Regions from separate parts of the Homo sapiens genome. Here region 1 is linked to region 2. The links come from fine-mapping of genetic effects on gene expression. A gene starts in region 2. The other region holds a variant in brackets. All regions are shown on one strand. Distances are from middle to middle. Region 1 has its middle 6.3 kb from the start of GLOD5. Region 2 holds the start of EBP (EBP cholestenol delta-isomerase).

Evidence for each region. PIP is the estimated chance that this variant, and not a neighbour inherited with it, causes the effect. A credible set is the group of variants that fine-mapping cannot tell apart.
Region 1: its variant is the best candidate, but not a certain one, in a credible set for the expression of EBP in cerebellar hemisphere (GTEx, PIP 0.83).

Annotation. Positions count from the first base shown.
Region 1 is chrX:48,752,644-48,758,167 of GRCh38, reverse strand. No RefSeq gene overlaps it. Among named protein-coding and RNA genes, the nearest start is that of GLOD5, 6.3 kb to the left of the region's middle. The variant TAGAA/A (reference allele first, on the strand shown) is at 3,233.
Region 2 is chrX:48,519,736-48,524,735 of GRCh38, reverse strand. It overlaps EBP (EBP cholestenol delta-isomerase), which reads right to left and starts at 2,928. Exons shown (of 5, transcript NM_006579.3): 1 at 2,829-2,928; 2 at 664-1,037. The coding sequence starts at 964. It overlaps PORCN (porcupine O-acyltransferase), which reads right to left. Exons shown (of 15, transcript NM_203475.3): 15 at 3,928-4,361. The coding sequence ends at 4,260. RefSeq lists silencers at 2,644-2,823, 2,884-3,113, 4,028-4,087.

The sequences.
Region 1 (5,524 bases), 230 kb before region 2:
CAGTAGCAGACCAAGAGCTGTTTCTCTCTCTCTCTCTTTTTTTTTTTTTTTTTTGAGACAGGGTCTCACTTTGTCACCCAGGCTGCACTGCAGTGGCACAATTACAGCTCACTACAGCCTCGACCTCCTGGGCTCAAGCGATCTTCCCACCTCAGCTTCCTGAGTAGGTGGGACTACAGGCATGCACCACCCCACCCAGCTATTAATAATTTTTGTATTTTTTTGTAGAGATGGATTTTTGCCATGTTGCCCAGGGTGGTCTCGAACTCCTGTGCTCAAGAGAGAGATGTGTTGGCCTCAACCTCCCAAAGTGCTGGGATTAAAGGAGTGATCCACCACACCCAGCCAAGAGCTGTTTCTCAAAAGGAGGGTAGTTATCTGCAGAGAATAGCAGGGCTTTGCTCCAAAATCCTAAAGGAGGCTCACCAAATTTCATTTGGGGGGCTGAGACGTGTGGATTGCCTGAGCCCAAGAGTTCGAGACCAGCCTCGGGAACATTGGGAAACCCTATCTCTACAAAAAATACAAAAGTTAGCCAGATGTGGTGGTGCACACCTGCAGTCAGTCCCAGCTACTAGGGAGGCTGAAGTGGGAGGATCACCTGAGCCTGAAAGGTCAAGGCTGCAGTGAGCTGTGTTGTGCCACTGCACTCCAGCCTGGGTGACAGAGCAAGACCCTGTCTCAAAAAATAAAATAAAACAAAATCCTAGAGGGCTAGGCTATGACTAACTTATAGCGGCCTGCCAAGAGCTCCAAACAGTATCCCTATCTGCCACTGTCACTTCAAGCACCACTGGATCTCCTGGGTCCTATGGCCCAAGTGGCAAAGTAGCTTGCACAGCAGCCTGGACATGTTGCAGAGCCTTCTCCTGTTCTGGGCCCCACACAAAACTTGCAGCTTTTCAGGTCATTTGGTAAACGGGCATGTGTAACATACCCAAATGAGGAATGTGTTGCTTCCAAAATCCAAATAGGTGTGCCAGGCATTGTGCCTCTTTTTTGATTGTAGGAGGGGCCAGATGCAACTACTTATCCTTCATCTTAGAAGGAATATATTGGCTGGGTGCAGTGGCTCACGCCTGTAATCCCAGCACTTTGGGAGGCTGAGGCGGACGGATCATGAGGTCAGGAGTTTGAGACCAACCTGACCAACGTGGTGAAACCCCATCTCTACTAAAAATACAAAAATTAGCTGGGCATGGTGGCGTGTGCCTGTAATCCCAGCTACTCAGGAGGCTGAGGCAGGAGAATCGCTTGAACAGGGAGGTGGAGTTTGCAGTGAGCCGAGATTGCATCATTGCACTCCAGCCTGGGTGACAGAGCGAGACTCCATCTCAAAAAAAAAAAAAAAAAAAAAAAGAATATGTTGACAGACCTCACACCACTGGACTCCTAGAAATTTCACTGAGGTAGAAGATCCCTGAATTTTTGTTGAATTTATTTCCTACCCTCTGACACAGAAATTTCTCACCAATAAGTCTAGAGTAGTTGCTACTTCTTGCTCACTATGTCTACTCAGCATAATATCATCAATGTCATGGGCCACTGTGATACCTGTGGAAGGGAAAGGCAATCAAAGTCCTTGTGGACTAAATTGTGACATAGGGCTGGAGAGTTGATTGATATACCACTGAGGCAGGATGGTGACAGAGTACAGCTGGCCTTGCCAGTTCAAAGTGCTTCTGGTAGCCTTATGGACAGGGATGGAGAAAAAAGGCCTTTGCCAGATCAAATAACTGCACACCAGGTACCAAGGGATGTGTTAATTTGCTCAAGCAATGCAACCACCTCTGGTACAGCCGCTGCAGTTGGAATTACCACCTAGTTAAGCTTACGTTAAGCTTAAGTCATCACCTGGCTAATCCACTGTCATTCTGCAAGATCCATCTGTCTTCTGCATAGGCCAAATAGGAGAGTTGAATGGGGATGTGGTAGGAATCACCATCCCTGCTTCCTTGAAGTCCTCTGCAATCCCTCCAGAAATGCAGCAGGTCCCCTTCATTCTGTATCATGTCCAGCAAGTGCTCTGTGGAGCGACATGAACCTCCATCATTCATTTCACTCTGCAACAGTCATTCTTTATAAATGGACATTTACAAGGTTTTTCTGATCTGCTCCCACCAGCCTTGTGCACACAGCTTTGTGCACATGTGTGAGTGTTAGAGTTAGAAGTGGAATTGCTCAGGTCAGGCGCAGTGGCTCATGCCTGTGATTCCAGCACTTTGGGAGGCTGAGGCAGGCGTATCACCTGAGGTCAAGAGTTCAAGACCAGCCTGGCCAACATGGTGAAACCTCGTCTCTACTGAAAATACAAAAATAAGCCGGGTGTGGTGGCAGGCACCTGTAATCCCAGCTACTCAGGAGGCTGAGGCAAGAGAATTGCTTGAACCTAGGAGGTGGTGGTTGCAGCGAGCTGAGATCGCACCATTGTACTCCAGCCTGGACAACAGGGCAAAAACTAAAAAAAACTAAAAAAAACTAAAAAAAAAAAAAAGAAGTGGAATTGCTGGATCAAGTTTCATTCATTCAACAAACACCTAATGTGTGTGTACTGTGTGCCCAGCACTGTTCTAAGTGCTGGCCAGACAACAGAAAATAAGGCAGACAAATGTCCCTGCCCACATGGAGCTGGGGGTAGTGGGGAGAGTGTCCAATATTGATTTCTGTAGATGCTTCACAAGGTCCTAGAAGGTTTTACTCTCATCAGGAATGCATTTCCTGATTTCCTCCCCACTACTCTCTATGGGGTGGGGCCTGCAGCAGGGGGTTGGCTTCCTTGATCTTTGCTCCCTACAAGCTGTGCAGGGTCTGATGCTGGGATGGTCTATTTGGGGATGTGCATGCACATATATGTGTATGCAGGTGGGCACCTGTGTGTGTACATGTGGTTGGGAAGTGGGGGATGGAAATTGAATGGTCCACTGGAGAGACAGAGGGGCAATAGGAATAGAAGAGACCACTTAATGGTGTTGGAGGGAGCTTGGGACAAAATGATCCATTGAATTGAGGCATGAACAGCCCCTCACAGGTCGCACCACAGAGGGTGTGCAGGAGTGGCGGTGGTGAGGAACTTAGTACTGTCTTGGAACCTGCTGTTGTGCAATTGTTGTGTGTATACTCCTGGGATCGATCACACGACTGTTGTGTAGACAACCTTGCAGTCATAAAGACAGGGGTGTGGATAATCCTGGAGTCACAGAGTGGGGTGTGAGCACTCCTGGGGTCACACAGA[TAGAA/A]GTGTGAATGCCACCTGAGGCAGCACACACTGGCATGTGGACAGCTGTGGGTTACTCAGATGGGGTTCCAGACATTCCAGGAGTCTCACACACACTGCAGAGCGGACACTCCAGGAATCACACACACTGGAGAATGCACACTTTCGGGGTCACACAGAGGGGGATGCAGGCACTTCTGGGGTCAGATTGACTAGGGTGTCAACACTCTTGTTGTCAAACAAACTGAGGGGTGGGCAGTCTTGGGGTCCCAATGATTGGAGTGTGGACATTCCCAGGGTCACATAGATTTGTATGTGGACATTTCCCACGTAGACCGGGAAGCAGACACTCCTGAGTCATCCAGACTGGCTAGTGGACATTCTTAGGGTCACATACACGAGGATGTGGACATCCTAAAGGTCAGATAGTCTGGGGTGTGCACGTCCCTGGGTTCACACAGATTGGAATGTAGAGCCTCTTGGGGCCTCTCGGACTGGAATGTGGCCACTCCTGGGCTCATACAGCCTGAGGTGTGGGCAATTGTGAGGTCACCTAGAGTGCTGGCCGGTCACAAAGATGGGGGTTTCGACATCGCTAGAGTCACTCAGACTGGACTGTGGACAGACTTGGGGTCATATAGACAGAGGTGTGAACACTCCAAGGGCCACCCATACTGGAGAGTGGACACTTCCAGGGTCACACAGGGGGTTTGGGACACTCCTAATATTAAACACACTGGGCGGCAGGCACCCCTGAAATCACACATTGTGGACCAGGTACTCCTAGTGTTACACAGACTGGGGTGTGGACACTCCTGGGGCCACAGTGACTAAGGGGGGGACAGTCCTGTGGTCACGTAGGCTGTGTTAGGAACATTCCTGCAATCTCAGTTTTAGGGAAGTGGATATTCCTGTGGTCCAAAAAAAAATGATGAATTGGCACCCCTGGGGTCACAGACTGAGTTGTGGATGCTGCCGTGGTCACCCAGGATAGTCATGGACACTCCTCGGTATGCAGATTTGGGAGTAGATACTGCTGAGGTCACAGCAGCTGCAGTGTGGGGCGGCCCTCGGGTTACACAGACTGGAATGTGAATTATCCTGGGCTCACACAGATCAGGTGTGAACATCGCTGGGGTCTTGTAAATGGAGTAACACACCCTGGGCAGTGTGCTTCCTGGGATCACATAGGAAGGGCAGCAGACTGTCATGGGGTACTACACATGGGGGGTCAGCACTCCCGTGGGTCACTCACATGGGGGTTTGAACACTCACACACACTGAGTTGTAGACCTTCCTGGGGTCACACAGACTGGCTGTATACTGCTGGTGTCACACAACTTTGGAGGTAGGCACTCCTGGGGCCACACATACTGGCATGTGGACACAACTGTAGTCACACAGATAGGGGTTTGGACACTCCTAGAGTCACACACCCTGCGGTGGGGACACCTCTGTCATCACAAGAGTGTGAACACTCATGTCATACAGACTGGTAAGTGGACACTCCTGGGGTCAGACAGACTATGGGGTGGACAGCTGTGCTGTCACACAGAATGAGGAGAGGGTGCCCCTGGGGTCACACACATTGGGGAAGGAATGATGCTGGAGGTGCACATTCAGGAGTCACTGACGAAAGGGGGGAAAGTTTGAATATCACCTAAGCAGTGCACATGACACATGGGTTCTAGAATGTGGGCTTCACTTTTCATCAATGTGGAAGACCCACAGCCTGCCTCTTTTCATGGACATTGAGGATACCGGAGGAAGAGAAACATCTGGAATCTATTGCTGGGAAGGTCTGCAGTGCCTGGGACCTTGGGCTTTTCACTGCTCTTCAGAACTGATTGTACTCAGTTGCTTTTTTTTTTTTTTTAATCTGTTAAATGGGGATCACTGGCTTCCTGCTTCCCTCACCAGGACATTTTGAGGATGAGGTGAAGTTCTCAGGTTAAAACTGCTTTATAAAGTAAAGCACCCTCTGGATGAGGAGGCCTGAGACTCTTCCTAAAATTCAAAGCAGTGAGCTGGCTGATCAAGGTGGCATCAGGCCAGGAGCTGGAAGAGGGGACACCTAGTTTGTGATCATGATAACGAATCTAGCTAAGTGACCTGGAGTGAGTCCGTTGCCTGCATTGACCGTCAGATTCCTGATCAGTAATACGGGGATGATACCCATCTGACAGGGTGTCACAGTGATGTTTAGCTGCTCCCAAAAGTCACGCACGTTGAGCTGTTGCAAAATAGCTGTCCAGCCAGAAGTTCCACTTCCCACTGTCCCTTGCCCCTGGGTGGGGCCATGCGACCAGT
Region 2 (5,000 bases):
GCCTGGGCAACAGAGCAAGACCTTGTCTCAAAAATAAGTTATCTACCAGTTTTAGAGAAGGGCAAAAAACAAAAAGAATAATAATAACAATACATAATAATTTTTTTTTTGAGACAAAGTCTCACTCTGTTGCCCAGGCTGGAGTGCAATGGCATGGTCTTGGCTCACTGCAACCTCCGCCTCCCAGGTTCAAGCAATTCTCCTGCCTCAGCCTCCCTAGTAGCTGGGATTACAGGCGTGTGCCACCACACCCGGCTAATTTTTGTATTTTTAGTAGAGATGGGGTTTCATCATCTTGGCCTGGCTGGTCTTCAACTCCCGACCTCGTGATCTGCCTGCCTCGGCCTCCCAAAGTGCTGGGATTACAGGCTTGAGCCACCGCGCCTGGCTAATTTTTGTATTTTTAGTAGAGATGGGGTTTTGCCATGTTGACCAGGCTGGTCTCAAATTCCTGACCTCAAGTGATCCACCTGCCTCGGCCTCCCAAAGTGCTGGGATTACAAGCGTGAGCCACTGTGCCCGGCCTATAATAAATTTTTTAAAAGATTAAATAAAAATTTAAAATAAATCAATGGAAGAAGAATAGGTGGATAGGTAAACATGCAAGCCGATCCCTGCCCAGCAAATCCCATCCCACAGCATATGAAAGAAATCAGGACTCACAGAGTTGAGATAAGAAGGCTTGGTCTCCAAGCAGGTCTTCGTAGTAGAGAACGAACCAGCCCTCGATCACCAGGTGAATGAACCCACACACTGCAAACCAGCACAGGGACAGTCGCCGCCAAGTCCCCAATGGGACAACCGCAGCACGACCTGACAACAGCCATGTGGTCACGACTAAGACCCCTGTGACAGAGAAGAGGCCAGCCAGTATATGCCAGGTGGGGCGGTCATTAGGTACAAAGTTGTCCAGTCTTAGGTGCTGAGGCCAGTATGGGTGCAAGGGGCCCGCGTTGGTAGTCATGTCTTTGTGGGCTGATGGCTGCGTGTGTATAGGCAGGAAGTTAAAAAAAAAAAAAAAAAAGGAACAGAAAAACCTGGACAAATAGAAAGTACAGAATGAGATAATAAAATCAAATTCAAATAGTTTATTATCATGAGAAATGTAAATGGACCGAATTTACCAGTTAACAGACAGGATTGTAACACTTCTAATTACATTCCGTTTTTTTTTTTTTTTTTCAGACGGAGTCTTGCTCTGTCACCCAGGCTGGAGTGGAGTGGTGCGACCTCGGCTCACTGCAACCTCTGCCTTCCGGGTTCAAACGATTCTCCTGCCTCAGCCTCCCGAGTAGCTGGGACTACAGGTGCCTGCCACCACGCCCAGCTAATTTTTTGTATTTTTAGTAGAGACGGGGTTTCACCGTGTTAGCCAGGATGGTCTTGATCTCCTGACCTCACGATCCGCCCGCCTCAGCCTCCCAAAGTGCTGGGATTACAGGCGTGAGCCACTGCGCCCGGCCTACATTCTGTTTTAAGACCATGACTAAAGGCCAGGCACCGTGGCAGGTAATTCCAGTGCTTTGGGAGGCTGATGCAGGAGCAGCACCTGAGGCCAGGAATTCAAGTCCGGCCTGGGCAACACAGCGAAACTGTCTCTAAAAAAATAAGAAAATCAGTCAGGTGTGGTGACAAAGGCCTGTAGTCCCAGCTAGTAGGTAGGCTGAGGCAGGAGGATCGCTTTGAGCCCAGGACTTCAAGGCTGAAGTGAGCAGTGACCACATCACTGCCCTCCAGTCTGAGACTCTGCCTCTAAAAAAGAAGGCCGGGCGCGGTGGCTCACGCCTGTAATCCCAGCACTTTGGGAGGCCAAGACGAGTGGACCACTTGAGCTCAGGAGTTCAAGACCAGCCCGGCCAACATGGCAAAACCCCGTCTCTACTAAAAATACAAAAATTAGCCAGGTGTGGTGGCGTGCGCCTGTAGTTACAGCTACTCAGGAGGCTGAGGCAGGAGAATCGCTTGAACCTGGGAGGCAGAGGCTGCAGTGAGCCGGGGTCATGCCACTGCACTCCAGCCTGGGCAACAGAGCGAGACTCTGTCTCAAAATAAAATAAAAAAGAAAAGAAAAAGAACATGACTGAAACACAAGGCCACAGAAAGGCTGAAAGCTTGTTCCAGCCCTTTAGAAGCCATATTATGATGTGGTAGAAACAGTCCCGGTCTCAGCCCTCGGGGGTCAAAGTCTGGTGGGAGGCACATGGGAACAACACCTGATCCCAGCCCTCCCTGGTCACAGTCTGGCGAGGGAGATACAGGACCAGGCCTGGTGTCTTCCTTCAAGGGTCACAAACTGCTCACGACCACCAAACCCAGTCCTGTGCTCCGGGGTCACGGTTTGGTAAGAGACACAGGAACCAGGCGTGGTCCAGTTGCACAGGTCAGCGTCTTAAACCGTTCAACAAAAAGCTATTCCCTCCCCCACGTAGTCCTGAAAACTGCAACTGGGGGACAGAGGAAAGAAAACGAATCAGAACTACAACCCTCGGTGCCAGCGTTTGGAAAGCCAGAGCCTCCCCGCGAGAGCGTGCAACGCCGTCAACCTGCAGGGAAGAGACGGATATTGAAAGGCCGGTGTCTGGCGTGCAGCGCTAGAACGGAACACAAAGCCGGTCAATCCGAACCAGAACCCTCCAGTCCCGCTGCCCAATGAGAAGACGGATCTTCTGTCCTCTGGACAACCGTGCGGTAGCTGGGGGTCTCGCGCAGGCGCAAAAGGGCGGTGGGGGGGGCGGGTGGCAAAGGGTCTCGCGCTGGCACGCCGAGGGCTGGCCGCGTAGCCGGGGAGAGCTGGGGGAGGGAGCAGGGGCCGGGTGGAGGGCACTCACCAAGGCGCGCGACGGCAGCGGCCTCCCACGCTGGCTCCGGGCTCTCTTTAGGCTGGGTCTCGCGCTCTGTCACATCCCTAGTTCGGGCTCATCCCCTAGTGGGTTCTCTTGCCTTACGGAGCGAGCCAATGGTGAAGCGAAGAAGGCGGCCCGTGCCGCTCCCAACCAATAGACACTCTCTTTGTACCTCTAGCCCCGCCCCCGCGCGTGGCGCCATTTTCACCTGAGTTAGGTTTGGGGTGGAGACTGGGACGCGCCAAGGTTAGTGGGCGTTTTGGATCCGTAGCCAATCTGCATCGAGTCCTGGCTTCAATTTCCCCATTCCCTTATCAGTCGATCAAAACGGGGACTCATTAAGGTCTGTACCCGCTTCTTCCGCTGGTGAAATTAGCGTTGCGTTGCATCCTTTCACCTCCGCCCTTTTCTAGGTAGAGTAACCCTTAGTATAATGCAACGAAACTGTTACAAGCAGATCACACGCTATACACTGCAACCACCCCCTCCCCAGCTCTTCAGTGCTCAGAACTCCTCAGTCCTAATAGCAGCGGTCATTCTCTCTTCTCCCGACCTCAAGTCAGAAGAACTAGTTAGAACCCAGGCCTCTCAGTCCTACTGACCAATTGGCATGAAGACCCTCAATCTCCATATGCCAGTTCTAAAAAGCCAATCAAACGCCTAACCACCAGTGGGCCCCCAGATGGAGCAATCAATCAGAATCCAGACCCATCCCAGACCTCCCATCCAATTAGAACCCACAACCCTCAGTCCTAAGGATAAATAGGCACCAACCCTTCATCTCTCTTGCTTTCTCTCCTCTGTGTCCCACTCAGAGCAACCAATCAGAATGGGGATCCTTCAGTTTTCCAGCCAATCAGGCCTCCCCCACATCCAACTATGCAATCTGTCCCTGCCCTGATCAAACCAAGCAGGACCAGGATCCTGCCATCTTCAGGCTCATCATCTAATCAATCATAAACTAACCATGAACCAATCACAGTCTGCTCTCTCTTCATGGTTTCCAGCTTCCAAACCTTTATCCATGCTGTGCTCCCTTCCTCACTCATTCCTATTCCCCTCTGAGCAGTGAAGAAGAAGCCTATTGAATATTTCCTACTTTTATTTGACAATAACAAATTGTATATAAAAAGGAAGAAGGAAGGCGGGGAGGCCCTGGATCTCCCCTTCTCTGTTTCCCCAAGCATCCCCCTCTAGGCCCCAGCAGGCACCACCCCCTTCCTGCCTTGTGGTGGGGTGGGGATTGACAGGCATGAAAATGGTGTGATTTTGTGTGTGTGTGTGTGTGTGTGTGTTGAGGTGTTGGGGGTCAAGGATGGAGGGGGTCAAGGAGTAGAGAGAGGGCCTTCCCTCATCCCCCATCAGTGGCACCCTGAGAGGGGTCTTAAGAGGGTTATGAGGGTCCACAGATGTGCCTCAGCCTATGAGACGGTAGAAGATCCAGCATCCAAAAGTGACCCAGTGACTGGCCCAGCTGAGCTCTGACCACTTGTGGACAGTGTATGCCATGCCGTAGCCCTGTGGGAGAGAAAGAGGTGATGGTCCCACTTAGCAAGGACAAAGAAGTTCTTAGGAAAACCCATCCTTTGCCCAAGGACATTTCTGTGACTGCTCTAGGCGAGGCCCCGCAGAAGGGCCTAGGTACATATGAAAGGTGACCAGATATAGTTTTTGTCTTCTTCTTTAAAAATCATTTTAAAAACAAAGTGATCCCATTCTCTGACCTGTTATCTCCCTAATATATAAAGAGCTCCTAAAAATTAATTTTTTGGAAAGAAAAATTGCCAGAGAAGGTGAATAGGTCATTCCAGTAAAGGAAAAACAAATGGCTCTTAAACATATGAAAAGATGCTCAGCCTCATTAATAATCTTCCTCATTTTATTTATTTTCTTTTTGAGACAGGCTCTCATTCTGTCACCCAGGCTTGAGTGCAGTGGCACGATCTGAGCTCACTGCAACCTCTACCTCCCAGGTTCAAGAGATTCTCCTGCCTCAGCCTCCTGAGTAGCTGGGATTACAGATGCTGCACCACCATGCCCAGCTAATTTTTGTACTTTTAGTAGAGATGGGGTTTCACCATGTTGGTCAGGCTGGTCTCGAACTCCTGACCTCAAGTGATCTGCCTGCCTGGGCGTCCCAAAGTGCTGGGATTACAG